Homo sapiens: one gene and its partners. The protein of the gene in region 1 purifies or fractionates together with the protein of each later gene. This does not show direct contact. Each region holds a gene or a part of one and is shown in the gene's direction. Other genes may lie near its edges.

Region 1 (3,882 bases):
AGGGTTTCACCATGTTAGCCAGGATGGTCTCAATCTCCTGACCTTGTGATCTGCCTGCCTCGGCCTCCCAAAGTGCTGGGATTACAGGCATGAGCCACTGGACCCGGCCTGCTTTTCATTGTTTTTTACTTTTTGTTTTGAAATAATTTTAGACTTAGAGAAAGTTGCAGAAATAGTAGAAAATTCCCATGTATCTTTCATCTAGCATCTCCCAATGATTACATCCTACAAAGCCATACTGTAGTTTATCAAAACCAGGAAATTGCCGGGTGTGGTGGCTCATGCCTGTAATTCCAGCACTTTGGGAGGCTGAGGCAGGCAGATTACCTGAGGTCAGGAGTTCGAGACCAGCCTGGCCAACATGGTGAAACCCTGTCTGTACTAAAAATACAAAAATTAGCCAGGCCCGCTGGTGCCCACCTGTAATCCCAGCTACTTGGGAGGCTGAGGCAGGAGAATCACTTGAGCCCAGGAGGCGGAGGTTGCAGTGAGCTGAAATCACGCCACTGCACTCCAGCCTGGGCGACAGAGTGAGACTCCGTCTCAAAAAAAGAAAACCAGGAAGTTAACATTGATAAACTACTACTAACTAATCTACGGACATTCAAATTTTGCCAGTTTTCCCGATGATGTCCTTTGTCTGGTCCAGGGTCCCATATTGCATTTTGTTGTGGTGTTTCCTTCATCTCTGTCAGCCTGTGACAGTTTCTTGGTCTTTATCTTTCATGACCTTGACACTTTGGAAGAGTCCAGGCCAGTTATTTTATAGAATATTCCCCAGTTTTAGTTTGTTTAATGTTTTTACATGATATGATTGAGGATCTGCATTTTTGCCAAGACAACCACAGAAGTGATACTGTGCTATTCTTAGTGCCTCCTAGCGGAGGGTGGTGGTAACTTTTTGTTTTGGTTTTTTTTTTTTTTTTGAGACGGAGTCCCGCTCTGTCACCCAGGATGGAGTGCAGTGGCGCAATCTCGGCTCACTGCAACCTCTGCCTCCTGGGTTCAAAGTGATTCTCCTGCCTCAGCCTCCTGAGTAGCTGGGATTGCAGGTGCCCACCACCACACCCAGCTAATTTTTGTATTTTTAGTAGAGACAGGTTTTCGCCATGTTGGCCAGGCTGGTCTTGAACTCCTGACCTCAGGTGATCCACCCACCTCGGCCTCCCAAAGTGCTGAGATTACAGGCATGAGCCACCACACCTAGACTAGGTGGTGGTAACTTTGATCACATGGCTAAGGTGGTGTGTGCCAGGTTTCTCCACTGTAAAATTAGGAATTTTCCCTTTGAAATTAACAAGAATCTTCCACTTTGAAGCTATGTGAATGTCTTATTCTTAAAATTTTGCCTACTGATTTTCATTTCCATCATCAATGATTCTTGCTTATAACAGGTATTAATGTTATGCTTGCCTAATGGTGACTTTGTTTCATTATTTTACCTGTATTTATTAATTGGTATTCTACTATAAGGAAGAGCTGTCCCTTTTCCCCATTTATTTATTTGATAATTTATATCAGTATGAATGAGTGGATATCTGTTTTATTCTACAGGCTACAATCTAATGCTAACAGTTTATTTGGTTGCTCAAATTGGCTCAGATTTGGCCAGTGAGAACTCATTGAAGTTGGCACTGTGTTGTTTCGACATTGCCCCTGTCACTTTTTAAGCATTTTCTGGCACCACAAGATGTTTCAGGCTTCCTCACATTTTCCCTATCTCAGCCCTGGCATCAGTCATTCTCTAAGAAGCTCCCAGTTCCTTTTATTCCAGAAAAAAGGAACTTAGAAACCAAGTTGTTTCTTGATGCCACTGGAAACCAAGATCTGGACAGAATATATACTCCTGGCTAGAGTATCATTGGCGGAGTGTCATTGCTTGTAGGCCTGCTCAGCAGACAGAGCTAGAAAACATATATGTATATATGTTAAAACATGCAAATACAAGCACCTGAATTTATTATTCTATCCATCTGTATGTTATTAAAAACCGTGAGCCAGGTATGGTGGCTCGTGCCTGTATCCCAGGACTTTGGGAGGCCAAAGTGGGAGGATCACTTGAGCCCAGGAGTTCAAGACCAGCCTGCGCATCATAGCAAGACCTCATCCTCCAAACGTTTAAAAAATAAAAAATTAGCCAGGCATGGTGGTGCATTCCTGTAATCCTAGCTACGTAGGAGGCTGAGGCAGGAGGATCGCTTGAGTTCAGAAGGTTGAGGCTGTAGTGAACTGTGATTGTACCACTGCACTGCAGCCTGAGTGACAGAGCAAGACTCCGTTTCATATTTTTAAAAATAAATAAAAATCATGAGTTTAGATACGGTTTTAATTCAATACCATAGGGTTTGCGACTGCCATTTTTATAACCTTACTATTCTTTTTCTGCTTTTTCTCCTGCTATCTCTGTTTCTGCTCCTTTCTATTTGATGTTTAGACTTCCCATAGAGGCTCTAGTTAAGTCAGCTAGTAACCAGCCTGTGTGCAGTATTCCTACTAGATAGAGGTCTTATGCCCGGCTGTCAGTCCGTTGGTTCAGTTAACTGTGGCCAGGAATACTAGGCATATAACTTAAAATCAGATAACTTTTATACAAGAAAAGCCAATGGCCACCTTCCTGAGAATAGGATAAGGAGACAGGGGTAGAACCTTAGATTCTAAGGAACCTAATTAAGAATCACTTCTGGCCGGGCGTGGTGGCTCATGCCTGTAATCCCAACACTCTGGAGGCCATGTAGGGGCAGATCACGAGATCAAGAGATTGAGACCATCCTGACCAACATGGTGAAACCCCATCTCTACTAAAAATACAAAAATTAGCCAGGCGTGGTGGCGGGCGCCTGTAGTCTCAGCTACTCGGGAGGCTGAGGCAGGAGAATCGCTTGAACCCGGGAGGTGGAGGTTGCAGTGAGCCGAAATTGTGCCACTGCACTCCAGCCTGGTGACAGAGCCAGCCTCCGTCTCCAACAAAAACAAACAAAAAAAGAATTACTTCTTCCAGAGATTCTCTGCCAGAACTCCTAGGTGGTGTTGGACCCATATCTTTTACTTCCATAGCATCCCAGGCTCAGCTCACTTGTCCTACTTGTTCTGTGTCTTCATCACTAGAATGTAAGTTCTAAGAGGGCAGATGCCAAGCTGTTCAGCCATTCACAGAACCTGGCACAGTGCAGGCATATGACAGATGTTCCTTTATTATTATACTTGGGTGAGTGGATGGGACCTGCAGCAAGTGCAGATCTTCTCAGTGGGCTCTGGAACAGAAAAGTATTGTTTGTTTGCTCAGCATATTTTTATTTGTCCCATGTTGCTGTGGCCAGGATTTGAGCTCTGAGACAATGCAGCAAGGTGAGACCCAGATTTCTTTTGTTTTGTTTTGTTTTTTGAGACAGAGTCTTGCTCTGTCGCCCAGGCTGGAGTGCGGTGGTGCAATCTTGGCTCACTGCAACCTCCACCTCCAGTTCAAGCAGGTCTCATGCCTCAGCCTCCTCAGTAGCTGGGACTACAGGCATATGCCACCATACCCAGCTAATTTTTTTTGTATTTTTAGTAAAGACGGGGTTTCACCATGTTTGCCAGGCTAGTCTCAAACTCCTGGTCTCAAGTGATCCACCCACCTTGGCCTCCCAGAGTGCTGAGATTACAAGCGTCAACGACTGTACCCGGCCCCAAATTCCTTATTGAGGATCCTAGAATACATGAGACCAGACTTGGAAATGAAAGTGTAACATGTTTATTGTTCAAAAAGAAAAACTCAAAGGTGTGTAGTGATTTTAAAATTTAGGGAAATTCCTCAATATAGTGAAAGAAGAAAAACAAGAAAGAAATTTAGGAAAGAAACACACTTAAACCATAAAAAATAGAAAATGGACCAATAAAGATAAA
Region 2 (4,717 bases), on another chromosome or scaffold:
ACCTCAGTGATTGTGTATTTAGTAAATTCTGGGGAAAGCTGCTGAAGTAGCCTTGAAGCCTACAGATACCAGTGTTGTCTGGTTGTATTTGTTAGGATTCTTGGTTGCAGGTGACAGAAGCCATTAGACAAAAAAGGGGGTTTCACTGAAAGGATTCTGGGGGAAATGACTAGCCAAGACTTCAGAAAGGCAGGATGTATGTGGGCTTCAGGAGCCTGTGGGAGTTGGGGTCATAACATTGCAGGCCTCCACCTGTGTCCTGGTATTTCTTCCATTATTGCTCAGAGCAAGACCAGATGCATCTGCTCCTTTGACTTCTTAGCAGGAAACAAGGCTGTAGACAGTGCCAGAGCTTTTTTTTTTTTTTTTAGACAGAGTCTTGCTCTATTGCCCAGATTGGAGTGCAGTGGCACGATCTCAGCTCACTGCAACCTCCGTCTCCTGGGTTCAAGCAATTCTGCCTCAGCCTTTCGAGTAGCTGGGATTACAGGCACGCGCCACCACACCTGGTTGATTTTTGTATTGTTAGTAGAGACGGGGTTTCACCATGTTGGCCAGGCTGGTCTCAAATTCCTGACCTCAGGTGATCCTCCAGTCTTGGCCTCCCGAAGTGCTGGGATTGCAGGCATGAGCCACTGCGCCTGTGAGTTTTACGTCACAGCTTTGCTACCCAGAGAGACTACTAGATCGAAAATCCCTAGGAAGGACTCTGGTTGATGTAGCTTAACCAGTCAGGGTCCTTCAGAAGAGGTATTCCTGGCAAGGGGGTAGCCTCCCATTTGAGGCTGTCAAAATAATGTGCACACTTCAGTAGGTTGTTAGAAGTGGCCTCCTGGTCAGTGAATCATCAGTGGGATCAGATGAAAGTTATTCCTACCAGTTATCTAAGAAATAGGAAACTTGAAGTTTCTGCTAAGAACTAAGTCCACACGGAATGCTAGAGATCATGCTGCAAAATGAAGACTCATTTGTTTGTGAGTGGTAGTCCATGAAATCTATCCTTTCTTTGCCAGCAGGCGTTCAGCAATCTGGATTTTATATTCTATCAAGACAAAGAGTAGAGATGACTCAAACATTTCTAACATTTATAGAGCACTTAGTGACATGCCCCTGGTACTTCCCTAAACATTTTACATGTGTCATCTCCTTTAATCCTCACAAGAACGCTATGGTCTAAGTATTATTATTCCAATTTAAAAGAGAAGGTTGGGGACAGTGACACACACCTGGACTTACAGCACTTTGGGAGGCCGAGGCGGGAAGATTGCTTGAGGCCAGAAGTTGGATACCAGCCTGGGCAACATAAGGAGACCCCCTTCTTTACCGCTCCCCCACTCCCGCCAAAAATTTAGCCGGGCAATGTGGCACGTGCCTGTAGTCCCAGCTACTCAGGAGGCTGAGGCAGGAGGATCGCTTGAGCCCACGAGTTCGAGATCGCAGTAAGCTATGATCATTCCACTGTACTGCAGCCTGGGTAACAGAGACCCTGTCGCTAAATAAATAAATAGACCTGAGTTGGAATATCGGCTCTGGAGACCTTAGTGTAACCATGCGCAAGTGTTTACTCACCTATTAAATGAGACTAAAGGTATTTTCTTCTCATGACTATATATAGCATACCACTAAGCCCTCTAGACATCATATTCCCCATCCATCGCCCCGTCCAGTGGACCAGGGATGAAGCGGGGATGCGCTAGGCATCCCGGTTTGTCACCAGGGGGCGTGCGAGGCCCTCAGCTTGGCGGGCGGTGAGGCGTGGGGTGACGGGGGGATGGCGGGGGCCGGCATGCGCGCGCATGCGCCGTGGTAAAAGGCCGGTACCTCGGGCAAGATGGCTATCAAGAGTATCGCTTCCCGCCTCCGGGGTTCCCGTCGTTTTCTGAGCGGCTTCGTGGCTGGGGCTGTAGTGGGCGCTGCGGGAGCTGGGCTCGCGGCCCTGCAGTTCTTCCGGAGTCAGGGCGCTGAGGGAGCGTTGACAGGGAAGCAGCCGGATGGTAAGTCTGTGGGCCCGTCCTCCCTTCGCTGGCCCAGATTTCGGGCTCCGACTCCTACCTGGAGTGTGAATGGCAGTCCTTGACGGACAGCCTTCACCGTTTGCTGGGCCCCTAGCCTGGCCCTTGGTTTCTGACCTTTATTCTCCCGGCTCGGCCTCCCTTCCCCACCTCGCGTCTCGCCAGCTTCCCTCATGTCCTTCCTTCCCCCGGGCATCTTCGTTTTCTGCACAGAACCACCCCCGCCGCCCGACTTTCTTCCCCCCAGTTACTCATCGCGATATCTATGTTTTAATGTCTGTGTTCTCTACTAAGATTGTTAGCTCCATAAGACTTGAGACTATGTCTGTTTTGGTCTCCATCATCTAACCAGCACAGTACCTGGTACATAATTGGCATTCAGTAAGTATGAATGAAGGAATAAATTAATACATAATTTTAGTAGATGAGTTAACTGCCCTTCTTTCGTCATTGTTCAGTTGAAGAATACCTGCTATCCCTCCAAAGTGTATAAAAACTCATGTTGCAATGGGTACCTTATATTTGACAAAAAAAAAAAAAAAATTAACACGAGCTCATTTCTTGTACTTTGCGGATGTGCTAATTTAACTTGCTCCTTTGGATACTTGGCATCTAGCAAGAGAACTACCCCCTTGGGGGGTTGAGGATTTGAGAAGGCATCGGGGAGGATTATCTCGAAACTGACTCACTGCTGAATGTGTGCTTGGTTTCTCCCACTAGGAAAAACAGTACCAGTTTTACTGTCATCTTGCAACAGCACACATATCAGTGCTTCAGAGATGATTTGGAAATTTGATGTGAAAGACTAATAAGATCAAGTCTTTATTCAAAAGTTAATGCAGTAGCTGCATTTTATTCACTGATTATAGGCAAATCAGTACTTTGCCTACTGTCTGTTTTCTTCATCTCATAAGTAATTGCAAAAATGAGATTTTCTGGTTGATTAGACTTCTGAGCCAGTCCTTTGTAAATCACACCGCTCTCCTTTTCCTTATAATCTTTCATTATTAAGAGCCACTAATTGTGTGTGTGTGTTTTTTTTGTCTCTGCCCCCCCTTTTTTTTTTTTTTTCATTTTTAGGATCTGCAGAAAAGGCTGTCTTGGAACAATTTGGATTCCCTTTAACTGGAACAGAGGCAAGGTGTTACACTAATCACGCTTTGTCTTATGATCAGGCAAAGCGGGTGCCTAGATGGGTTCTTGAACATATTTCCAAAAGCAAGATAATGGGTAGGTGGTTGGATAAAAAAACTGAAGTAACAGTATTTATGAAAGATGTCTCCAAATTTAAAACAGGGATGATTATTAATATTCTCAACCTTTTTCATATCATAGCACATGTAGAAAATTATATTTATATAACTTACTGGTTAAATCAACCCTGCCTGGCAGCCAGAAAGCCAGACCCTTTCCAGCTGTCTCAGGGCTGAAAATACCCATATCTTGACACACTAGTTGGGAGGCTCTGTCATAAATATTACAGCAATGAGCACCATTCAGTTTTACCTTAACAAATATTTATGTGCCTGCTATGTGTCTGGCACTGTGGTAACCCTTGGGGACCTATGTGTGACCAGAGTAGAGGATCTCTACCCCAGTGACACTTTGAGTTGGGAGAGTGGGTTGACCCATCAAACAAATAATTTTAGATGTATAATTACAATAATTTTTCCAAAGGAGGTGATTGCAAGTTAGTGTAGTATAATTAAGGAACAGTAAAAAGTTTGATGAGAGGCTGGGCGTGGTGGCTCACACCTGTAATCCCAGTACTTTGGGAGGCTGAGGCGTTTGAGCTCAGGAGTTTGAGATGAGCCTGGCCAACATGGCAAAACCGCGTTTCTACAAAAAATACAAAAATTAGCTGGGCGTGGTGGTGCACCTCTGTGGTTCCAGCTACTTGGGGGACTGAGATGGGAGGATCTCTTGAGCCCAGGAGGTGGGGGTTGCAGTGAGCCAAGATCGCAGCACCACACTCCAGCTTAGGCAACAGAGGGAGAATGTGTCTCAAAAAAAAAAAAAAGTGTGATGAGAGATTATAACACAAGAACCTGATTTTGATTAGTAAGGCTTCTCTGGAAAAGTGGACTGAAGAGTGAACGGAAATTACTTAGGCAAGGGGTTGAATGTGCCATGGGATATGGAGAAGAGCATTCTAGGAAGAAAGGAACATTTGCATCTTCGGAGGCCCCCAATGTGGACAGGAGTTTTGTTCTTTTAGGGAACTAAAAGAGTGCCAGTAGATGAATGAGGGGGAAGGTGATGTGAAATGATGCTGGAGAAGTAAGCAGGTGTGTCAGTTTATTCATGTGTCCTTATGTCTTGATAGGGTCCTGTAGAATTGCCAGATCTTGATAATTAATGTCAAATTGGTTTCTAGGTAGATTCTTCAAGTTTACACTCCTAGCATCATTGTTTCTTCTCTCTCTCAACCTTCACCTATGGTGAGCATTACTGAGCTTTACCAATTTAATGCTCATTTTACTTGTGTTTATTGATTATCAATGAGGGTTAACATGCTGTGAATTAGTCTTTTTTGGTAAGTTATTCTTTACCTATTTCAGTTGGGGTATTCTCTTTTGAATTTATTTGTAAAAGTTCTTTTATTTATTAAGGATATTACCTTTTGTCACAGTTGTTTTGTTCCCTTTTGTTATTTGCTTTTTAATTTGCTGTGTGTTCCACATATTCTCCTTTGCTTTAAAATG
Region 3 (4,084 bases), on another chromosome or scaffold:
TTGGCTTATTTTATTTTATTTTATTTTTTTGAGATGGAGTCTTGCTCTGTTGCCCAGGCTGGAGTGCAGCGGCACAATCTCGGCTCACTGCTACCTCCGCTTCCTGGGTTCAAGCCATTCTCCTGCCTCAGCCTCCCCAGTAGCTGGGATTACAGGTGCCCGCCACCACACCCAGCTAATTTTTGTATTTTTTGTAGAGACGGGGTTTCACCATATTGGCCAGGCTGGTCTGGAACTCCTGACCTTTTTTTTTTTTTTTTTTTTTGAGACAGAGTCTTGCTCTGTCGCCCAGGCTGGAGTGCAGTGGCGCGATCTCAGCTCACTGCAAGCTCCGCCTCCCGGGTTCACACCATTCTCCTGCCTCAGCCTCCCGAGTAGCTGGGACTACAGGCGCCCACCACCATGCCCAGCTAATTTTTTGTATTTTTAGTAGAGACGAGGTTTCACCGTGTTAGCCAGGATGGTCTCGATTTCTTGACCTTGTGATCCGCCCGCCTCGGCCTCCCAAGGTAATGGGATTACAGGCGTGAGCCACCGTGCCCGGCGGAACTCCTGACCTTGTGATCTGCCTGCCTCGGCCTCCCAAAGTGTTGGGATTACAGGTGTGAGCCACCACGCCCAGCCAGTTTTATTTTATTTTTGAGTCTCACTCTGCTGCCCAGGCTAGAATACAGTGGTGTGATCTCAGCTCACTGCAACCTCCGCCTCCTGGGCTCAAGTGATTCTCCTGCCTCAGCCTCGAGTAGCTGGGATTACAGCTGCCTGCCACCACGCCCGGCTAATTTTTGTATTTTTAATAGAGACAGGGTTTCTCCATGTTGGCCAGGCTGGTCTCAAACTCCTGACCTCAGGTGATCCTTCCACCTTGGCCTCCCAAAGTGCTGGGATTACAGGTGTGAGCCACCACGCCTAGCCTTAGATTGGCATCATTTAAATATTTTATTAGCCGCTCAGCCATAGTATGAAACTTTAACTTAAAGAGAATAGTCACTTCATTTAAGGGTATTATGACAAGTTTGTTACTTTCCTAGTTATCAAATAATAATTCAGAATAAGTTGTGCAGTTCTTGTAGTATGTACCAAAGTGATTAAACTCACCTTTTTGGGGGTGATGGGGAGGTGGGATGGAAGTCTTGGTAAAAAGGCACCAGCCTGCTTAAATGGCAGATTGAACTTAATCATGAAAATGCTCACAGCAACCCTTAATGAGTCAAGTTCTGGGTTATTGACACCATTGATGACTACTTGAATTGTTTTATGAGAAAGGAAAGTGATTTTTAATTACATCTGAATCGCTTAATTTCTGATTCTCGGTAAAGTATGATGATGAAGAAAGATGATGGTTCCTATCTCTCGGGGTTGTGAAGATTAAACAAAATATGTAAAAACAGGAGTTAAAAATCAGTGATAAATATGTATTTACTGCCCAGAATGCATTTGGTCTGTCTTTATATGAACATATTTTCCAGTAAATACTAGCTGACTTTATTTGTTTTAGGATGGCTGTTCAGTGGGAGTCTTTAAGATGTTTTTGAAATTGCTCCCCAAGTCTCCCGTATTCCCCAATATAGATCCATCTCTAGTCTTAACATCATCAGCTCCGTTTTAGTTTGTCTTTCATTGTTGCTGTGATTACCACAAACTCCGTGTAGCCGTCGCGAGCCATAGGATTGTGCCCATTCAGTGAATGCTTTGTAGTGTGTTGCATGCAGAGTGTGTGCACCGGCTCAGGTCTGTGTTCCAGTTCCCAGCACACTCTTTCAAGCTAGGTGATATTGGGCAAGTTGATTGTGAAAATGGAAAATTTGAAAATGGGAAGAATATCTGCTTCATGAGGATTAGATAAGATGAGGGATGTAATTGTCTAGCAAGGAGGAAGACTTAGTAATTATTATTTGCTTGTGTGTGTGTTTGAGATGTAATGCACATATCATAAAATTCACCCACTGAAAGTGAACAATGTCGTGATTTTTAGTATATTCACAGGGTTGTGCAAACAACACTACGATCAATTGCAGCACATTTTCTTTTCTTTTCTTTTTTTTTTTGAGATGGAATCTCGCTCTGTTGCCTAGGTTGGAATGCAGTGGCACGATCTTGGCTCTCTGCAACCTCCGCCTCCTGGGTTCAAGCAATTCTCCTGCCTCAGTCTCCCAAGTAGCTGGGACTACAGGCACGTACCACCACGCCTGGCTAATTTTTGTATTTTGAGTAGAGATGGGATTTCACCATGTTGGCTAGGCCGGAACGCCTGACCTCAGGTGATCCACCCACATCAGCCTCCCAAAGTGCTGGGATTACAGGTGTGAGCCACCACACCCATCCAAACTGCAGTACGTTTTCATAACCTCCAAAGGAAAACCTCGTACCATTAGCAGTCGTATCCTCACTCCCCCCACCCACTCCCTGGCAACCTCTAATCCTCTTTTTATTTCTATGGTTTTGTTAATTATTACTAATAGCAATAGTAATAATAATGATAGCTGCTTGGTCCCCTTGCCGTTTAAATGAAACCTTTTGTGGTTTTGGACTTATTGCCAGGCAGGTTGATGTCTTAGAGAGTGTTATTATATGATTTTAGCCACAGGAAAATGTTACCTTTCAGGTAGGTTCTGGACATTAGTTCTGATATGCAAGGATTAGCAAACGAAACACAATGAACTTGGCTCCCTGGTCTGGCACAGCTGAGAGTGCCCTTGAATGGGGTGGCTGCATCACAACCCGACATGCTGGGCGTCAGTTCCAGTGGACAGGAATGGCAGGATCAGCTGGTGATTTGTGAGAGTGGTTGTCAATAATTTCTGTGATGGAAAGTGACTCTACTGTTTAAATAAATCATACAGAACAGTGATGCCACAAACATTTCTGTTAGTGCTGGTGTTTTCTTTGGTGAGGAAAGGAAGGTAGAGGATTCACAGACCTTGGCTGAGCCCCAGGTAGCCATTTTCTGAATGAACTTGGGAAGGTCACTTTACCCCTAGGCCTTAGTTTCCTCATCTATGAAATGGGAATGAGAACTTCGTATCCTCGGTCATTTCATATCCTCAGTCTTGCACGAACTGAGAGCCTTAGTATTGCAGTAGGGGGTGGCTTCTGTGGGATAAAGGACACAGCTTTGAAATCAGATAGGTTTGGTTGGGATTGGATTCCAAACTGTACTTTGAAGTTGTGGTCAAGTACCTTTAAATGGAACTTCAGGTTTCCTGATCCATGAAAATTAGCTGGACATGGTGGCACATGCCTAGAATCCCAACTACTCGCTAGGCTGAGGCACTTGAGCCCAGGAGGTTGAGCCTGCAGTGAGCCGTGATCGTGCCGCTGCACTCCAGCCTGGGCAACATAGACTGTGTCTCTAAACAAATAATAAAAAAAAAGGATTAGGACGGCTGAGTGGGTTAAGTGGACCACCCAAGGTGTCAGGCATAGAGGAAGGGATTGGTACCACTGCCTTTCCTGGATGGGATTAGCTACTCCAAAACAAGCTATTTTGCTCTGTTCAAGAACAAGAGTATTTCAGAGCTTTCCTTCCTGTAGATTAATTTAAAGCTGCTAGTATGTCCAGTTGCTGAACCTGTCTTGACAGGTGTCTCTGTTCTTAGCTCTTGAGGCTAGTGCGCCTCTAGGCAAGATGTCCCTGCCCATCGGGATATACCGCCGGGCAGTCAGCTATGATGATACCCTCGAGGACCCTGCGCCCATGACTCCTCCTCCATCGGACATGGGCAGCGTCCCTTGGAAGCCAGTGATTCCAGAGCGCAAGTATCAGCACCTCGCCAAGGTATCTGACCCTGCTGGCCATTTCTGGCATACGCAACCCCTTTGTCCTTCCTCTGCTCCAGAAGCCTTCAGTGGCTCCCTGTGCCCATGGGACTGGGCAGCAACCACTCCCTGTATGTGTTTTCTGTGCCTCAGTTATAGCTGTCTTTTTTTTTTTTTTAAGATTTTATTTATTTTGTTAAAAAAAAAATCAGTAGCTTTAGGGTTACCCGAGGTGTTGTTCGCATGGATGAATTGTATAGTGGTGAAGTCTGGGCTTTTAGTGCACCCGTCACCCGAATAGTGTACAGTGTACCCAATAGATGGT
Region 4 (4,114 bases), on another chromosome or scaffold:
AAAAAAAAGTCCCCATAAGGAACAGCTTACTTTTGCCAGATTTTAAAATTCCACCTGTGGCCGGGGGCCCTCCCCATGGTTTCACTTTTAGTTCATGTTTCTTCTGTTTGTTTGTTTGTTTTTTCCCCTGCCGGAAGACCTCATTTTCCTCGTCCATATCTTTGGCCTGCTGCGGCTGCTCCGTTTTTTGTTTTTTGTTTTTTTGAGACAGGGTCTTGCTCTGTCACCAGGGCTGGAGTACAGTGGTGCAGTCTCAGCTCACTGCAGCCTGCAACCTCCACCCTCCACCTCCTGGGCTCAAGAGATCCTCACATGTCAGCCTCCCAGGTAGCTGGGACTTCAGGTATGTACCACCATGTCCAGCTAATGTTTGTATCTTTTGTAGAGAAAGGGTTTCGGTATTTTGCCCAGGCTGGTCTCAAACTCCTAGGCTCAAGAAATCACCCACCTCAACCTCCCGAAGTGCTGAGATTGCAGGCATGAGCCACTGCACCTGACCTTGCCTGCTTTTTTTCTTTTTTCTTTTTTTTTTTTTGACACTGAGTCTCGCTCTATCACCCAGGCTGGAGTACAGTGGCGCGATCTCGGCTCACTGCAACCTCTGCCTCGTGGGTTCAAGCGATTCTCCTGCCTCAGCCTCCCAAGGAGCTGGGACTACAGGCGCCCACCACCATGCCTGGCTAATTTTTGTATTTTTAGTAGAGTCAGGGTTTTACCATGTTGGCCAGGCTGGTCTCAAATTCCTGACCTCGAATGATCCACCCACCTCGGCCTCCCAAAGTTCTGGGATTGCAGGCATGAGCCACCGCGCCTGGCCTTGCCTGCTTCTTGAGCTGCTTCTTGCCACCTTCAAGGCAAGACTTGGTTCTTGCCACTCTTACCCCCTACCCTGCTACCAAAACCTACATCTTGTTTTTTTTAGGCATTTCAAGGTAGATTACACTTTTAAATCAAGTGGTTAAGGTAGGATCTCCTGAAGTAGATATCTGGGCAAAGACTTGAAGGAGAGAAGGGAGTTAGCATGTTATCTGGGGACAGTTGTCCCAAGCAGAGCACAGCCAAGGCAGAAGCCCTAAGACAAGAGCATGACTGGCATGTTCTCTGAGCAGTACTAGGGCCCTGTGGTGGAACGAAGTAAGGGAGAGAGAGTAGTAGGAAATGAGAGCTGAGGTGTAATGGGGAGCAGATCATGCAGGACCTGTATGCCATTATGAGGGTTTCAACTTGTACTCTGAATGAAACGAGGAATTATTGGAAGGTCTTTGGGCAGAGAAGTAATGTGAGCTGACTCACATTTTAAGAATCAGTAGGCCAACTGCAGTGACTCACACCTATAATCCCAGCACTTTGGGAGGCTGAGGCAAGAGGATCACTTGAGCCCAGGAGGTTGAGGCTGCAGTGAGCCAAGATTGTGCCACTGCACTCCAGCCTGGTCAACAGAGTGAGACCTAATCTCAAAAAAAAAAAAAAAAAAAAAAAAAAGAAGAAGATGTGGAGTGCTTCAAATCCCACCAGAAAATCTTATTTCTATAGTGCCCTGTTCTTGTGAAGCTAGCATATGTAACTCTGCTACATAATCCAAGGTCTCCTATAAATGAATTTTTAATACTCATTTTTTTAAACTTTGTTAACTAAAAGGTTGAGATTTAAGCTCCTAACTAGTTTGTTTCTTGCGCAGCCCACAGAACTTAATTGCCCAATCTCAGTCTGGTACTGGTAAAACAGCTGCCTTCGTGCTGGCCATGCTTAGCCAAGTAGAACCTGCAAACAAATACCCCCAGGTAAGGATTTATGAATTTAGGTTTTCTACTAATGCATAGATAGAAGGGGATTTCCATTTGATGGATTAAAAGACAAGCTATGGGCTGGGTGCAGTGGCTCATGCCTGTAATCCCAGCACTTTGGGAGGCCGAGGTGGGCGGATCACCTGAGGTCAGGAGTTCTAGACCAGCCTGGCCAACATGGTGAAACCCTGTCTCTACTAAAAATAAAAAATTAGCTGGGCCTGGTGGCATGTGCCTGTAATCCCAGCTACTTGGGAAACTGAGGCAAGAGAATCATTTGAACCCGGGAGGCGGAGGTTGCAGTGAGCTGAGATCGCACCATTGCACTCCAGCCTGGGCAAAAAGAACGAAACTCTGTCTCAAAAAAATAAAATAAAAGCCAAGCTATGCATTACTTTTTACACAAACTGAAACTCCTTAAATTGAGCACAAATAATACGGGATATCTTCCAATGGCAATAAAAATCCTGTTTCCTTTTTCCATGGTGTGCCAGTTCTGGGATGCTTCTTACAGGCTTGGCTCCTTTACTTGCAGGAAAACCTGTTTCATCAGCAACTGCCATCCATTAGAAAGTTCTGAGAGCTTTCTGAGTAAACGAAAAGAAAGCTAATGCCAATTGGAACTTTAGATCCTTGCTCATGGGTGGGTTTTTGTATTGCAGTGGCCAGTATCTGTTTTCAAGTGTCTTTACCCAGCCAGAGTTCTGACCCCTAAGAATTCTAGCTTATGACTCTGTAGCTTAAAGAATCAAATGGTGTACATTTTAATGTACATATTCTTTCCTTCAGCTTCAGCTGGAGGAGTGGCTAAGTACTAATGGTAATTCCCCTTTGCAAAAGAGCTATTGTCTTGAATTTGCACTCTGCATTCTTTTCCTGCCAGTGTCTATGTCTCTCCCCAACGTATGAGCTCGCCCTCCAAACAGGAAAAGTGATTGAACAAATGGGCAAATTTTACCCTGAACTGAAGCTAGCTTATGCTGTTCGAGGCAATAAATGTGAGTATGTGAATTTGGTCCTAAATCATCAACCTAATTCTTTTTATTTTGAAATATTTCAAAACCCACCCAATAGTTGAAATAATACAATAAACACATGTATGTTCTCCAGCTAGATTCAAAAACTTAACATTTTGCCATATTTGCTTTACATAAATGTATACATTTTTGTCAAACCATTTGAAAGTAAACTGCAGACATGCACCTCATGAGGACATTCTTTGCCATACCTATGGATACCCTTTTATCACAACCAGGAAAATTAACAGATTTCCTAGAATAACTAATACCAGTCCATTTTTATTCCTCCCCAGCTGTTCCCAAAGTCTTCCTTTATAGCTGTTTGGTTTTTCGACCAAGATCAAGTTAGCGTTTATACGTTGCGTTTGGTTGTTGTACTTGTTTCTTTCAATCTAGAATTGTACCCCTACCTTTTTCTCTCCCTATTATATTTAACATTTTGCACAGACCAGACTAGTTGCTTTTCAAATATTCTACATTCTGGCCGGGCGCGGTGGCTCACGCCTGTAATCCCAGCCCTTTGGGAGGCCGAGGCGGGCAGCAGATCACGAGATCAGGAGATTGAGACCATCCTAGCTATCATGGTGAAACCCCGTATCTAATAAAAATACAAAAAAATTAGCCAGGCGTGGTGGCGGGCACCTGTAGTCCCAGCTACTTGCGAGGCTGAGGCAGGAGAATGGTGTGAACCTGGGAGGCAGAGCTAGCAGTGAGCTGAAATAGCGCCACTGCACTCGAGCCTGGGCGACAGAGCGAGACTCCGTCTCAAAACAAGCAAACAAACAAAAAACAAACAAACAAAAATTCTACATTCTAGATTTGTTTATTTTTATTTATTTATTTTAGAAACAGAGTCTTGCTCTGTCACTCAGGCTGGAGTACAGTGGCATGATCTTGGCTCACTGCAACCTCTGCCCTCCGGGTTCAAGTGATTCTCCTGCCTCAGACTCCCAAGTAGCTGGGATTACAGGTGCCTGCCACCATGGCTGGCTAATTTTGTATTTTTAGTACAGATGGGGTTTCACCACGTTGGCCAGGCTGGTCTCAAACTCTTGACCTCAGGTTATCCATCTGCCTCGGCCTCCCAAAGTGCTGAGATTATAGGTGTGAGCCACTGTGCCCAGACTTCTTTCTTTTTTTTTTGAGAGAGAGTCTCGCCCTGTCGCCCAGGCTGGAGAGCAGTGGCACAGTCTTGGCTCACTGCAAGCTCTGCCTCTGGGGTTCACACCATTCTCCTGCCTCAGCCTCCTGAGTAGCTGGGACTACAGGCGCCCACCACTACGCCCAGCTAATTTTTTGTATTTTTAGTAG
Region 5 (4,114 bases), on another chromosome or scaffold:
CCTTTTTTGTTGAGCCTGGGCAAGATAGAAGGTGGTGGGTAGAGCTGCTGGTGAGGACGCCACCCTGGGTGCAGCCGAATGTCTCTGGGAATGAAAGGGGGAGGGAGTGTGATTCTGCCATTAAGGGTCATTTGGGCAGGCTGTGGAAAAGGTTTATTTCTCCTAGGCCTTGAAGGGTGAGTCAGTGTTTGCTGTACAGAATGGGATGTCAGGGGCAGCACAGACACAGAAGCACAGCGGTGGGAGGGCGGTGGGAGGGCTGTGGGCGGTACCAGGCTTGCATGGTGTGGTGTCCTTAGACCTCAGCAGGGAGCAGGCAGGAGCTGAGGCTGACTTCAGGTGGGTGCCTGAGAGCGCTGGCCTGAGAAGCTTGGTCTTGTAAGCAGTGGGCTTCCTAGGAGGGTTGCAGGTGGCACTGCTGAAATAGAGGAAATGCCTGCCCTAGGGCAGTGGCTGCAGAGGCCGGGTCCCGTGGGTGGGTTGGGAGATTTAGGGTGGGTGACTAGATAGAGCAGGTGCCAGTTTGAGGAGGAAGATGAGTTCTGTCCCTGCAAGACGAGGCTTCAGTGATGCCTCAGGGACAGCCACATGTTGATGCCTGGGAGGCAGCGGTCTCCTTGGTCCAAAAGGCTGGAGAGAGGACAGGATTGGCCGTGTGAGCCACGGGGCAGGAGTGTATGGGAGGGGGTGGGGTCAGAAACAGGAGAGGCTGGGCCTAGGCACTCCCCTGCAGCCCCCCTGCAGCCCAGGACCACAGCTCAGGAGGGATGGAAGAGGATGGAGCTGGAGAGGGAGGGGCAAGGGCACTGTGTGGGGTCAGAGAAGAGGAGAGGAAGAGGGGAACTGCTGCTGGGAAGCTAGGTGTGTTAGGGCCGGAGGAGACCCTCGGGCTTGGCTTGAAGGGTGGCTTTGGTGACCCTGGGGAGAGTGGTTTGGGACATGGGTTCAGGTGCAAGCCATACCACAGTGGGCCAGGGAACAGTGGCTGGGAGGGGCGGCTGGGTGTGGAAGTGGCCTGCAGGTGCACGGAGGGCGAGGCGCGACCGTGAGGCTGGGACTCTCGAGGGCATGCAGATGCCTTTCCAGAAGGCACGTGTCCCCGTGTGGGGTCAGGCGGACAGCCCCGCCGACCAGCGAGGCTGCCTGATTCTGACCCGTTCTTGTCACCCGCAGAGCTGCCATCAGTCATGCTCTTAAACGGGGACTGCCCAGAGAGCCTGAAGAAGGAGGCGGCGGCGGCCGAGCCACCCAGGGAAAATGGGCTTGACGAGGCCGGCCCGGGAGATGAGACCACCGGCCAGGAAGTCATTGTCATTCAGGACACGGGCTTTTCTGTGAAGATCCTCGCCCCTGGGATCGAGCCCTTCTCCCTGCAGGTAAGATGGAGGAACGGGTGCTGGGGGCCAGGCCTGAGCCTGCTGGGGAGGGTGAGCTGGAAAGCTCAGCCTTGCTCGTGCTCCTACCGGCCCCATTTTGTGGCAGGAAACTGAGGATCCCGTGCCCTCCCTAGAGTCACTCAGCTAGCGTGGTGGACGTGGGAATCGAGCCCAGGGTCAGGTCGTTGCCCCATTGCTAGAGGACAGCAACCAGCTGGGCCTGCCAGCCCTATGTGGGGAGGGGAGTGATAGTGGCTGGGAAGTGTTGGCATCCCAGGACTCCCCAGCCTCTTGCTCTGTGCCCTCAGGCAAGTCACCTCTCTCTGGGCCGTGATTTTACCATCTGCCAGAGGGGAGGGTAGTATTGGGTTATCTCCAAGGGCAGAGCCAGCGTGGAGGTCTTGCAAGCCGGTGACTCAGTGGGGAACGAGACAGGGTCGTCGTATGTCTCGGCACCCGCAGGCTTGGGCCCCAGAGCACCCCTTCTGGAAGGGGAAAGCCATTTGCCCCAGGCACCTTAGCACTGGGCAAGGCCGGGGGCGAGCCTGCCGTCTTCTGTCCCGCTGTTCTTCATCTCCCTTCTCTGCTCGGGCATTGCTCTGGGTCTGCAGGCCGAGTCGGTGGGCCAGGCTCCAGGCTGCACACACAGGGCATGGCATGTGTGGACATGGCCTGGATTTAAAAGCCAGAAAGTGGGATAGCCGATATTCGAGTATTTGGGGCATTTATTCTGGGGACCAAGGTACTTTGGGCTGGGGACAAGGGGATATTGTCCTTGCTGTCCGCTACGTGGCCTCTCACCGGGGCGGTTGGGGCCTTCTCTCCCCGCTACGTGCTCTCTCACCGGGGTGGGCGGGGCCTTCTCCCTGCAGGTGTCCCCCCAGGAGATGGTGCAGGAGATTCACCAGGTGCTCATGGACCGGGAGGACACGTGTCACCGCACCTGCTTCTCACTGCACCTGGATGGCAACGTGCTGGACCACTTCTCGGAGCTGCGCAGCGTCGAGGGGCTGCAGGAGGGCTCTGTGCTGCGTGTGGTGGAAGGTTGGTCTGGAAGTTGGACAGCCTGCCCGGGGGAGGGCCCACGGAGGCAGAGGCAGGCAGCACCATCCATGCCAGGGTCCCTGTGTCACGGATGAGCTCATGGAGGCAGGATTGGAGCACAGATCTGCTTCTCAGGCCAGCACACCTATATCTGCCAACTTCACGGCCCATGGGTTAAAGAACAGAGCCGTGGGCTGGGCATGGTGGCTCACGCCTGTAATCCCAACACTTTGGGAGGCCAAGGCGTGTGGATCACCTGAGGTCAGGAGTTGGAGACTTGCCTGGCCAACATGGTGAAACCCCATCTCTACTAAAAATACAAAAAGTTAGCTGCGCGTGGTGGCAGGTGCCTGTAATCCCAGCTACTCGGGAGGCTGAGGCAGGAGAATCACTTGAACCTGGGAGGCAGAGGTTGCAGTGTGCCCGGATCGTGCCACTGCACTCCAGCATGGGCAACAAGAACGAAACTCCGTCTCAAAAAAAAAAACAAAACAAAAGAACAGAGCCGTGATTCTAAAAAAAAAAAATCAGGCAGTACCATCCCAGGGCGTGAAGTCAGCGCAGTTCAGTTCTGTAGAGATCCATGAGAAGTCCCAAACGTTTCCTAGCCCTAGAGTGGGGAGGTCGGGCACGGGGAGGTGCCATCCGGTTGGTCTGTGGCCTCGAGTTTTCTGGGTAGAAGCTGCTTGGGTTCCACCCCAGGGCCTGTCCGCCTGTTGAGAGCAGTGACGGAAAAGGTCTGTAGCTCAACAGCGCCCACAGTTGATCACGGAACCTCTCCCCTCCACCAAAAGAACTGCCATTAAAATCCCATGAAACCACATAGGGGCAGTGTTGACATTGGGGGCCTTGGAAAGTCCTCAGGCCACCCCTACATGAGGCTGCCTCGGGAGAGCAGGGCAAGGCTGTGGTGTGGAAGTCCCACAGCTCCAAAAGCCCTGCCCAGCCGACACACTGGCGCACAAAAGCAGGCAGCCTTGTGGACGCCTGAGGCCTGTGTGTGCTTCAGAGGCATTTGGCAGAAAGTTCTTTATAAACAAAGATCCCTGCTCACCAGTAGGCAGAGTGTGTGTGTGTGTGTGTTTGTGGTGTCAAAACCAGAACTCCAGCTTATGTGTTCACAGTGGAATTTGAAAACGGAAACCTAAAGTTGAAAATTAAAACCACTGTGTTAGCACCTCCAAAACCTGTTTTGTGCTGGGCAGGTTGTTCAGGGTGCAGGGCCCTGGTAACGCCATACCCTCCCTGCCTTCCTGACAGAGCCGTACACGGTGCGTGAGGCCCGCATCCACGTGCGCCATGTCCGAGACCTGCTCAAGAGCCTGGACCCATCCGATGCCTTCAACGGGGTTGACTGCAACTCCTTGTCCTTCCTGAGTGTCTTCACCGACGGCGACCTGGGAGGTGCGGGAGGCACTGGGGCCGGGGATTGGGCCAAAGGGCGGGGAGCACGGAGGTGGGGGGCTGGAGAAGGGGCCGAGGGGCCTGGGCCTGAGGCACCCGGACCACGGCCATCAGGAGGTAGGGAGACAGCTGGCCCTGGGTGGCCCTGTGCTGACCACCAGCCTCGGGTCCCTCAGACAGCGGGAAGCGGAAGAAGGGCTTGGAGATGGACCCCATCGACTGCACACCACCCGAGTACATCCTGCCAGGGAGCCGGGAGCGGCCACTGTGTCCCCTGCAGCCCCAAAACC
Region 6 (4,114 bases), on another chromosome or scaffold:
ATCTCAAATCCAGTATGTCTAAAATGAAACTGATTTCCCCTTCCCTCCCTACAAAACTGCACAACGTTGGTTCTTTCTTTGTTCCTTTTTTCAGTGAATGACACAATTATCTTTTCATTGTAAAATCCAGAAAACTAGAAGTGATCCTTAATTCCCTCTCCCTGATAGATCCAATGATTGAACAAGTTTTTAAAGTCTTACTTTCTACATGACTCTTGAATTTTTCTATTTCTTCCTGTTTCCACTACTGCCACTTCATCTTGCCTGAAACTTTTACAATAGCCTCCATTCTTATCTGTCCTCTCTAATTCATTACCCATCTTGAAGGCACAGTGATTTATTTTGAAACACACATTGGATTATCACTCTCCTTCTTCCTCCCCCAGTGCTTTTATGGCTTTCCATTGCTTCTAGGATCAAAATAAAACTGCTTAACAGCCTTTAGCTCTCCAGACTCATCTTGTACCATGTTCTGCATAACTCTCCAGTTCAACCATGCTGGCCTTCTTTAGTCCTTTGTATGCACCTTGCTCCCTGCCATTTTTGCAAGGCTTTTGTACATGCTTTTCTCTCTGTCTGGACCATTCTTTCTTTACTTTCATTTCATTTCACTTGTTAGTTCCTAGTCATCCTTCACACCTCAGCTGAAGTTTTGCATCCTTAGAGAATATGCTCACTTCCCACATTAAGGTAATAGCATCATACATTTCCCGCAGTTTGCAATTTACATTTATTCATGTGACTGTAAGATTTTCTTTCTGTTCAGTGGCCTATAAACTTCATGAAGGTAAGGTCCATATCTTGTTTTCTTTTTTGGCTCATTTTTGAATCCCTAGAACCTAGCTCAGTACCTGACACCTAAATTTGACTCATTAAATTTCCAAGTTAATGGTATTAAGGATTTCAGTTCATCGAGTTTTGTAATACAAGAATTTGAATATGAATTTTTATAAAAATAGTGTTAAAATGGTAGTACAGTTTGAACATTCCTAATCCAAAAACTTGAAATCCAAAATGCTGCAAAATTCAAAACTTTTTTGAGCCCAACATGATGCTACAAGTACATAATTCTACACCCAACTTTATGTGATGAATCAAAGTCAGAATGCAGGTGTACAACAGTTTCTCCAAGAGAAAAAAGACCTGCCTAGCCCCCTTCAGCTGCCATATATCTTTTCCTCACACAGCCAGATGCACCTACGCAAGCATGCCCGCAAAGGGCAATACAATGCCATGTGTATGTGTAAGAAATGATTGGTTATACGTAGCATATAAATTCAGAGACGGGAATGATAGTGATGTCAAACAACCACAGACTGTCCACATGAGTGGCTGAGATAGTGACACCTTTGCTTTTGGATGGTACAGTGTATACAAACTTTGTTTCATGCAAAAAATTATTAAAAGTATTATATAAAATTACCTTCAAGCTATGTGTATAAGGTGTATATGAAATGTAAATGAATTTTGTGTTTACACTTGGGTCCCTTCCTGAAGATACCTCATTATGCATATGGAAATATTCCAAATGCCAAAAAAATCTGAAATCCAAAACATTTCTAGTCTCAAACATTTTGGAAAAGGGATAATCAACCTGTAATTAAATTTTCAGTTTGACTATTTCTTTCAAGTGTATGGAAATAAATTATTAGGCCGGGCACAGTGGCTCACGCCTGTAATCCCAGCACTTTGGGTGGCCGAGGTGGGTGGATCACTTGAGGTTGGGAGTTCAAGACCAGCCTGGCCAACATGGTGAAACCCTGTCTCTACTAAAAAATATACATATACAGATTAGCTGGGCGTGGTGACCTGCACCTGTAATTCCAGCTACTTGGGAGGTTGAGGTGGAAGATCGTTTGAACCTGGGAGGCAGAGGTTGCAGTGAGCCGAGATCGTGCCTCTGCACTCCAGCCTGGGCGACAGCAAGACTCCGTCTCAAAACAAAAAATGTGTTATTAGTAGCTATATAAAATATAGCAATATAGCACAGTATTCTTACACTATTTTGTAATAGACCCTTTTATTTTTGGATGGTTTTAGTTTTACAGAATTACTGTGAAGATAGAATAGAGCTTCCCATACCCACTTTCCCCTATTATAAGATAGGCTGTGCACAGTGGCTCATGCCAGTAATCCTAGCACTTTGGGAGGTCAAGGCAGGTGGATTGCTTCAGCTCAGGAGTTCAAGACCAGCCTGGGCAACATGGTGAAACCCCATCTCTACCAAAAATACAAAAAATTAGCTGGGCATGGTGGTGCCCATCTGTGATCTCAGCTACTTGGGAGGCTGAGGTGGGAGGATTACTTGAGCCCAGGAGGCGGAGGTTGCAGTGAGCAGAGATTATGCCACGGTACTCCATCCTGGATGACAGAGCGAGACTCCATCTCAAAAAAACAAAAACAAAAACATACTACATTAGCATAGTACATTTGTCACAATTAACCAATATTGGCACGTAATTATTAAAGTCCATATTTTATTCAGATTACCTCACTTTTCCCCAATGTCTTTTTTTTTTTTTTTTTTTTCTGTTCAAGGATCCCATCTAGGATAGCATATTACCTTTAGTGGTCATGTATCCTTTCATTTTGACAGTTTCTCAGATTTCCTTGTTTTTGATGACAAGTTGATAGTTTTGAAGATTACTGCCTGGTCAGGTATTTTGTAGACTGTCCCTCAGTTGGGACTTGTCTGCTGTTTTTCTCATTAGACTGGGTGATATGTTTCTAGGAGGAAGATCACAGAAGTAAAGTGCCATTCCCATCACATCATATCAAGAATACAGACTTTTTTTTTTTTTTTTTTTTTTTTTTTTGAGGTAGAGTCTCACTCTGTTGCCCAGGCTGGAGTGCAGTAACGCAATCTCGGCTCACTGCAACCTCCACCTCCTGGGTTCAAGCGATTTTCCTGTCTCAGCCTCCCAAGTAGCTGGGTCTACAGGTACATGCCACCATGCCCGGCTAATTTTTGTATTTTTAGTAGAGAGAGGTTTCACCATGTTGGCCAGGCTGGTCTTGAACTCCTGACCTCAGGTGATCCACACACCTCAGCCTCCCAAAGTGTTGGGATTACAGGCGTGAGCCACTGTACCTGGCCAAGAATACAAACTATTAATATGACAGTACCATTGATATTAACCTTGACTACTTGGCTTGAGATAATGTTCATCAGTTTTGTCCACTGTAAAGTTACTCTGTTTTCCCCCTCCTTTTGTATATTGTACTTTTTAGAAGAAAGTCTCTCTGTGAAGCACACAATTGGGAATTGGGGAATTATGCTTTACCTCTTTAAGGGTGAAGTGTCTACATAAATTTTTGAAAAATCTTCTATAAGAGTTTTTTGTCTATTCTCCCCTTTCAGTCGTTTATTTATATCAGTCTGACTCATGGATATTTATTTTATACTTAAGGGTAAATCCAGTAGTACTTTATTACTTTGTTGCTCAAATTGTTTCAGCTGTGGCCACTGGGAGCTCTTTTAGTTGGTTCCTGTATTCCTTTGACATACTCCTGTCATTGTGAGACTTTTGTTCTTGTTTTGTTTGTTTGTTTGTTTTTGAGCACTTTTAACTTTCTGGTATTACAAAATGCTCTAGGCTCACCTTGTGTATTACCTACCACAGGCCTAGAATCAGCCTTTTCTCCAAGGAGCACTGATTCCTTCTATTGGAGAATAGTATTAGAAACCAATATCTGGGCACTATGTTTGCTCATTGCTGTTGGAATGTCATTGCTTCTAGGCCCTCCCAGTGGACAGAGTAAGGAAATATATGTGTGTACACTAACTCATGTATATACACATATCTATAAATATTTCTATATGTAACTATATATATGTTAAGCTATATTTTCAGTTTATTTCCTGTGAGCATTTTTCATTAAAAAAATTACCTGTGAATATTGAAGGGGTTTATTTTACATGGTTTTGGGAATTTAGTAACAAAAAGTAACTCTCCAATTATCCATTGCTAAGGGACAAAAGCAGTTCAGATAATACCAAATAACAGGTAACCTGTTTGATCTTTGAATGAAATCAATTACAACAACAGAGATGACCACCTCTCTTGGTTCTTGGTTGGCTTCACTGCTAATGTTCTGGAACTGAGCCATCTAT
Region 7 (4,114 bases), on another chromosome or scaffold:
TTCTGGTGGCGAAGAAGAAGATGAAGATGAGAACATTGAGGTAAACATTGGGGGAGGAGGGTATTGGATACAGTGCTGGCATGGGTGTTTGAGATTTAAAAAGGTTTGTGAGGAGTGATATAATGGCAGTTTGGGGTAATTTCAGGTTTAGAATTTAAGATGCAGTAAAATACAGCCTCTCAATAATTTGGAAAATAATAGAAAGGGTGATGGAAACTGTGTTCCTACTCCTACACATTATAGTCTATAAAAAAACTTTAAAAATGCTCTTAGACTGGAGCCTGTGTAAGAGAACTTGCAGTGTTTGCATAACAGAGCTGTTCCGTGAAGAAGAAATAGCTGCATCTAGGCAGTTTCCTCCTCTGTGACCACAATTTACATTGATTTGTTTTATAAACAGATTTATCAGCTTATGTTGAATAAAATCATTCCTCTTAACAGGTGGTGTATTCGAAGGCTGCCAGTGTACCGAAAGTTGAGACTGTAAAGTCAGACAACAAGGATGACGACATCGATATTGATGCCATTTAAAGGGATGGATGCAACCTAGCTTAACAGTATAATGCTGCAAATTTTCCTCCATTATCAGCCAGAAGTGCAACATGTATGTGCAAAAGCTAAAATGGCTTAACATCATGCTACACTTTACACTAAAAATCTATTACTGTGAGTGGTCTGTTATTAAGCCCAATGAGACATCTAGGGAGTCCATACACATCAGTGAGCAGATGTAGTTTGCTTATTTATAGCATGTTTCTTTTTGAAAAACTAGTGGTGGACACATTTGGATCACATTTATACAGTTATAAAAATAAAGGTTTGATTTTGGTCGTTCTTCAGATGTTTGGCTCTGAATGACTTAAGCTGAAGTAACTGGCTCCTTACTTTAAATGTTCTGCCATCATTTCACCTGATGAGCATTCTTGGAGCCTGCCAGATATTGTTAGGTCCTGGGGCTGCAAAGAGGTCCTCAACAGGATGTAAAGCAAACTTAATTGTAATTAATTTATTCAGCCCATTAAGAAAGTACTAAAGTTTTATCTCTGTAGTTCCTCAAATTGGCATCTGGTAATGTACATTGTGAGGTAGACTGATAATGAAATGACAGTGTAACATCTTAACCAAGAAGTAAATATGACCTCAGTGTCCTATAAATAATGTAAGAGCAGGATTTGAAACTTGGAGAGCTGTTTTCTCATTTCATGTACACTTGCCCCAAATTGTCTTTGAAGTCGTGTGCATTGCACGTTGGATGAGCCAGGGAAATTATTACATTAACAAGCATTTTGTGTGTACGTAGTAGTTACTTTGTACTGAGAGAACTTGCTTTGGGGTGCAATTAATAAACTGATTTTATTTGGGAGAAACAAGGAAGGGTGCACTTAACTAGCAACCTAAGCATGATTTTTCAGCTTTTGCCCTTAGGGTTTAAATTACAATTCCAAAATGTTAGACATACTGTATTTTTTCGTTCAGTGTGGCTTTAATTTTCCCCTCTTGCAGTTTGTTCTGTAATGCCTTTTACATTTGGACACATAGTTTATGCTTTTTAGATTTTGGTTGCTTTCTTGCCAAAATAAGTGTTAACTGTGTTTCAAACTTGATTTTCTTTCCTTTTTCTTTTTTTTTTCTTCCAGAATGTCTTATTTAAAAAGAAAGCTAAAAGCATACTTCTAAGTCAGAGCCTCTATTTTGGTGTAAGACTTGGGATATTTTTTACTTCACATTGAATATAGCCAGGCACCCAAGAAGTCTGATGGCCACCTGAGTGCAGGTGACAAGGACCTGACAGAGCCCATGCAGGGCTTTAGATTTGGACACACAAGAGTTGATAACTTCCTCATGAACTCCTTGCCTGATCTAAACTCATATTATGGGTTCTGACTGTTTGAGTAATCATCTTCAAGGTTAAACCTCTTGGCAGTTACCCTTTTCACAAAGTGCACAGTGGGAATCGAGAATCGATAGGGTTAATTTTGGAGCAGTGGCTTATACCATTCACCTCTGTTTTTTTGTGATTATTTCACAGATAATGAGACCTTAATAACAAATAGGCGTAAAAAAATTTTCACATTGAAATGATAGAAACATTTGATGTAATAAAACTTGGTTGGCTTGATATTTTAAGGAATTGAAACCTAGCAATCTTATTGGAGAGACAAGAATTGGTCTCCAGCTGCCTTTGATCAAGATTCGGGTGCAAGTGGAGCAGGAGCCATATACCTGGAGGGAATGTGCTTTGTCACACCAAAGAGGATTTTTTTTTCTTCAAACTTGTATGTTGCCTAGGTTTCAAATTCTTTGCCGCAAGGCTGATCTGCTTTCATTAACTGGAATTCTGTAGGAGATACTGGTGACCTAAGCTAAGTTGCACTCAGCATACTCAGTGTCAAGCTAATGAGGTTCTATTATAAAGGTTCTACTTTTAATCTGAGGGAAAACATGTTCAGGGCTTCTAGAACACTAAAAAATTTGGCTTAAACCAGTGTTCAGTCTGGTGCCAAACTTCGAATGGAATACAAATTCACATAATCTGAACTTTGTTCACAGGTTATCCTAATAGAGTAATTCTTCACTTTGCTCTATTGAACTGTCTTAAGGATTTGTTTAAACAGCTAAGTTACTTGATTAAAATAATGATAAAATTGTATTTTGTCTTTGCTTTAATATTAAAGTTAACAAGTTTTCATTTTATAATGAGATCAAAGCATTGGAATCTGCCCTGTTTTGTAGCCGTTGCTTTGGATTTGTGTTGGATGTATCCTGCAGTTACACTTGCCAGCCCCACTCACAAAAGTTGTTCATTTCATTGGGTCACTGGCTTTATTTGCTAGTCTTGTCTGTGAACTGAGCATCTGCCTCAGTTTTATTACTTGAAATCTTGGCAGGTGCTTAATAGGGAACATACATACAGCTATGTAACTGTGAATAATTGTATATATCTCTAGTTAAGAATGAGGGAATGGGGAGGTTTGCTTTCTAAACAAGTGCATTCTGAAATTGACTTAAAAATTTTTAGTGTGGGTCCTAAAGTTTAGAGATGGGCAAGGAGGTCTCTAATCCACCGCTTCCCGCTTGAGAAGGGAGGGGTATCAAAATTGAGCCCCAAGCTGTTTGTTCCAGTGTACCAAGCACTGACTTTATGCCTTTGGCCTGGAGATGGCAGAAGTGAAAGCTGGCCATCTGCAAAAAGCAGATAAGTGAGTTTGAACCTTTTGCATTTTGTTAGCTCAGTCAGTCCTCATCGTGGTCCTGAGGCATAGGTACTGTTGTACCAAGGTCACTTATCTAACAAAATAACCCTTCATGTATTTTAAATTTATTTGACAAGTCTGCAGACAATCCTTATCTAACCAGCTATTTTCTTAATTGCTACAGCTTGACCTACCAGTATTCCGGAGTAACCAGCAAATGCAAAGTTGACCTTGTTCCTGCATCATCTTTTTGATGGTTCAAATTTCAGCCTCCCTGACTACTACAAAGCCAGAGCAGTCTTAGTACCAGAAACAGTGTTGCACTTTCGTTGCATGTGCTGTGTGACCCCAAGGGGACAGGGAGTCACTTTGGTCATCTCTGTCCCCAGTACAGATCTTGATTCATAGTGACATTCCATAAGTGGGGTGACAGCAAATGACTTGCAGGTAGTCTCATTGTAGGTTTGTGCACCAGAGTGACCCTGTGAGCCTTTGTTAATAGGTTGGGAGCTCAGGGTGTTTATGTCCACCTGTCTGGTCTAGCCAAACAGTTTTTTTCTGGGAATCAAATTTCTGTGGTTTTTATGGCCAGAAATTTTAAGGACTTGTGTGTGCTGGGATATGAGAATAGAAGCTACAGAGTTCTTTTCTTGGGACCTAGACTGGGAGGTGCAATGTCAGGACCTCCAGGTGAATGGTAGGATCTGAGTTGACCCTGCAGTTCGGTTATGCAGTCAATTATTTCTTTTTAAGAGGAGGAGGATTCACTTGGGTGTTGGGATCAAATTTGGATTCTGTCCCAGGCCTTACTGTAAAACTAGGGGATTGCCTTTCCATATCTGCTGGGGGTGGAGACCCTTATGTGCAGCACTCAATCCCACTGGAAGCCTAATGCTGCAGTCAGAAGCAATGCCTGGCTG

What was found.
Region 2: the proteins of CLPB (region 1) and EXOG purify together in Homo sapiens (affinity purification with mass spectrometry; 2 studies listed by BioGRID and IntAct, with this or other methods). This does not show direct contact.
Region 3: the proteins of CLPB (region 1) and KIAA1191 purify together in Homo sapiens (co-immunoprecipitation; 3 studies listed by BioGRID and IntAct, with this or other methods). This does not show direct contact.
Region 4: the proteins of CLPB (region 1) and DDX19B purify together in Homo sapiens (affinity purification with mass spectrometry; one large-scale study listed by BioGRID and IntAct). This does not show direct contact.
Region 5: the proteins of CLPB (region 1) and CLUH purify together in Homo sapiens (co-immunoprecipitation; 3 studies listed by BioGRID and IntAct, with this or other methods). This does not show direct contact.
Region 6: the proteins of CLPB (region 1) and ARFIP1 purify together in Homo sapiens (co-immunoprecipitation; 3 studies listed by BioGRID and IntAct, with this or other methods). This does not show direct contact.
Region 7: the proteins of CLPB (region 1) and EIF5 purify together in Homo sapiens (affinity purification with mass spectrometry; 2 studies listed by BioGRID and IntAct, with this or other methods). This does not show direct contact.

Annotation. Positions count from the first base shown.
Region 1 is NC_000011.10:72,287,989-72,291,870, reverse strand, and holds part of CLPB (mitochondrial disaggregase), read left to right. Parts: 3' UTR 1-3,882. UniProt on the Homo sapiens protein: Functions as a regulatory ATPase and participates in secretion/protein trafficking process. Has ATP-dependent protein disaggregase activity and is required to maintain the solubility of key mitochondrial proteins.
Region 2 is NC_000003.12:38,494,537-38,499,253, forward strand, and holds the start of EXOG (nuclease EXOG, mitochondrial isoform 1 precursor), read left to right. Parts: upstream 1-1,803; 5' UTR 1,804-1,831; coding exon 1,832-1,994; exon of another isoform or gene 1,995-3,092; coding exon 3,093-3,242; intron 3,243-4,230; exon of another isoform or gene 4,231-4,717. UniProt on the Homo sapiens protein: Endo/exonuclease with nicking activity towards supercoiled DNA, a preference for single-stranded DNA and 5'-3' exonuclease activity.
Region 3 is NC_000005.10:176,355,265-176,359,348, reverse strand, and holds part of KIAA1191 (putative monooxygenase p33MONOX), read left to right. Parts: intron 1-3,599; coding exon 3,600-3,778; intron 3,779-3,928; exon of another isoform or gene 3,929-4,084. UniProt on the Homo sapiens protein: Potential NADPH-dependent oxidoreductase. May be involved in the regulation of neuronal survival, differentiation and axonal outgrowth.
Region 4 is NC_000016.10:70,322,907-70,327,020, forward strand, and holds part of DDX19B (ATP-dependent RNA helicase DDX19B), read left to right. Parts: intron 1-1,678; coding exon 1,679-1,781; intron 1,782-2,667; coding exon 2,668-2,782; intron 2,783-4,114. UniProt on the Homo sapiens protein: ATP-dependent RNA helicase involved in mRNA export from the nucleus.
Region 5 is NC_000017.11:2,701,624-2,705,737, reverse strand, and holds part of CLUH (clustered mitochondria protein homolog), read left to right. Parts: intron 1-1,173; coding exon 1,174-1,376; intron 1,377-2,248; coding exon 2,249-2,420; intron 2,421-3,680; coding exon 3,681-3,824; intron 3,825-4,000; coding exon 4,001-4,114. UniProt on the Homo sapiens protein: mRNA-binding protein involved in proper cytoplasmic distribution of mitochondria.
Region 6 is NC_000004.12:152,786,293-152,790,406, forward strand, and holds part of ARFIP1 (arfaptin-1), read left to right. Parts: intron 1-4,114. UniProt on the Homo sapiens protein: Plays a role in controlling biogenesis of secretory granules at the trans-Golgi network. Mechanistically, binds ARF-GTP at the neck of a growing secretory granule precursor and forms a protective scaffold.
Region 7 is NC_000014.9:103,340,522-103,344,635, forward strand, and holds part of EIF5 (eukaryotic translation initiation factor 5), read left to right. Parts: coding exon 1-40; intron 41-441; coding exon 442-531; 3' UTR 532-4,114.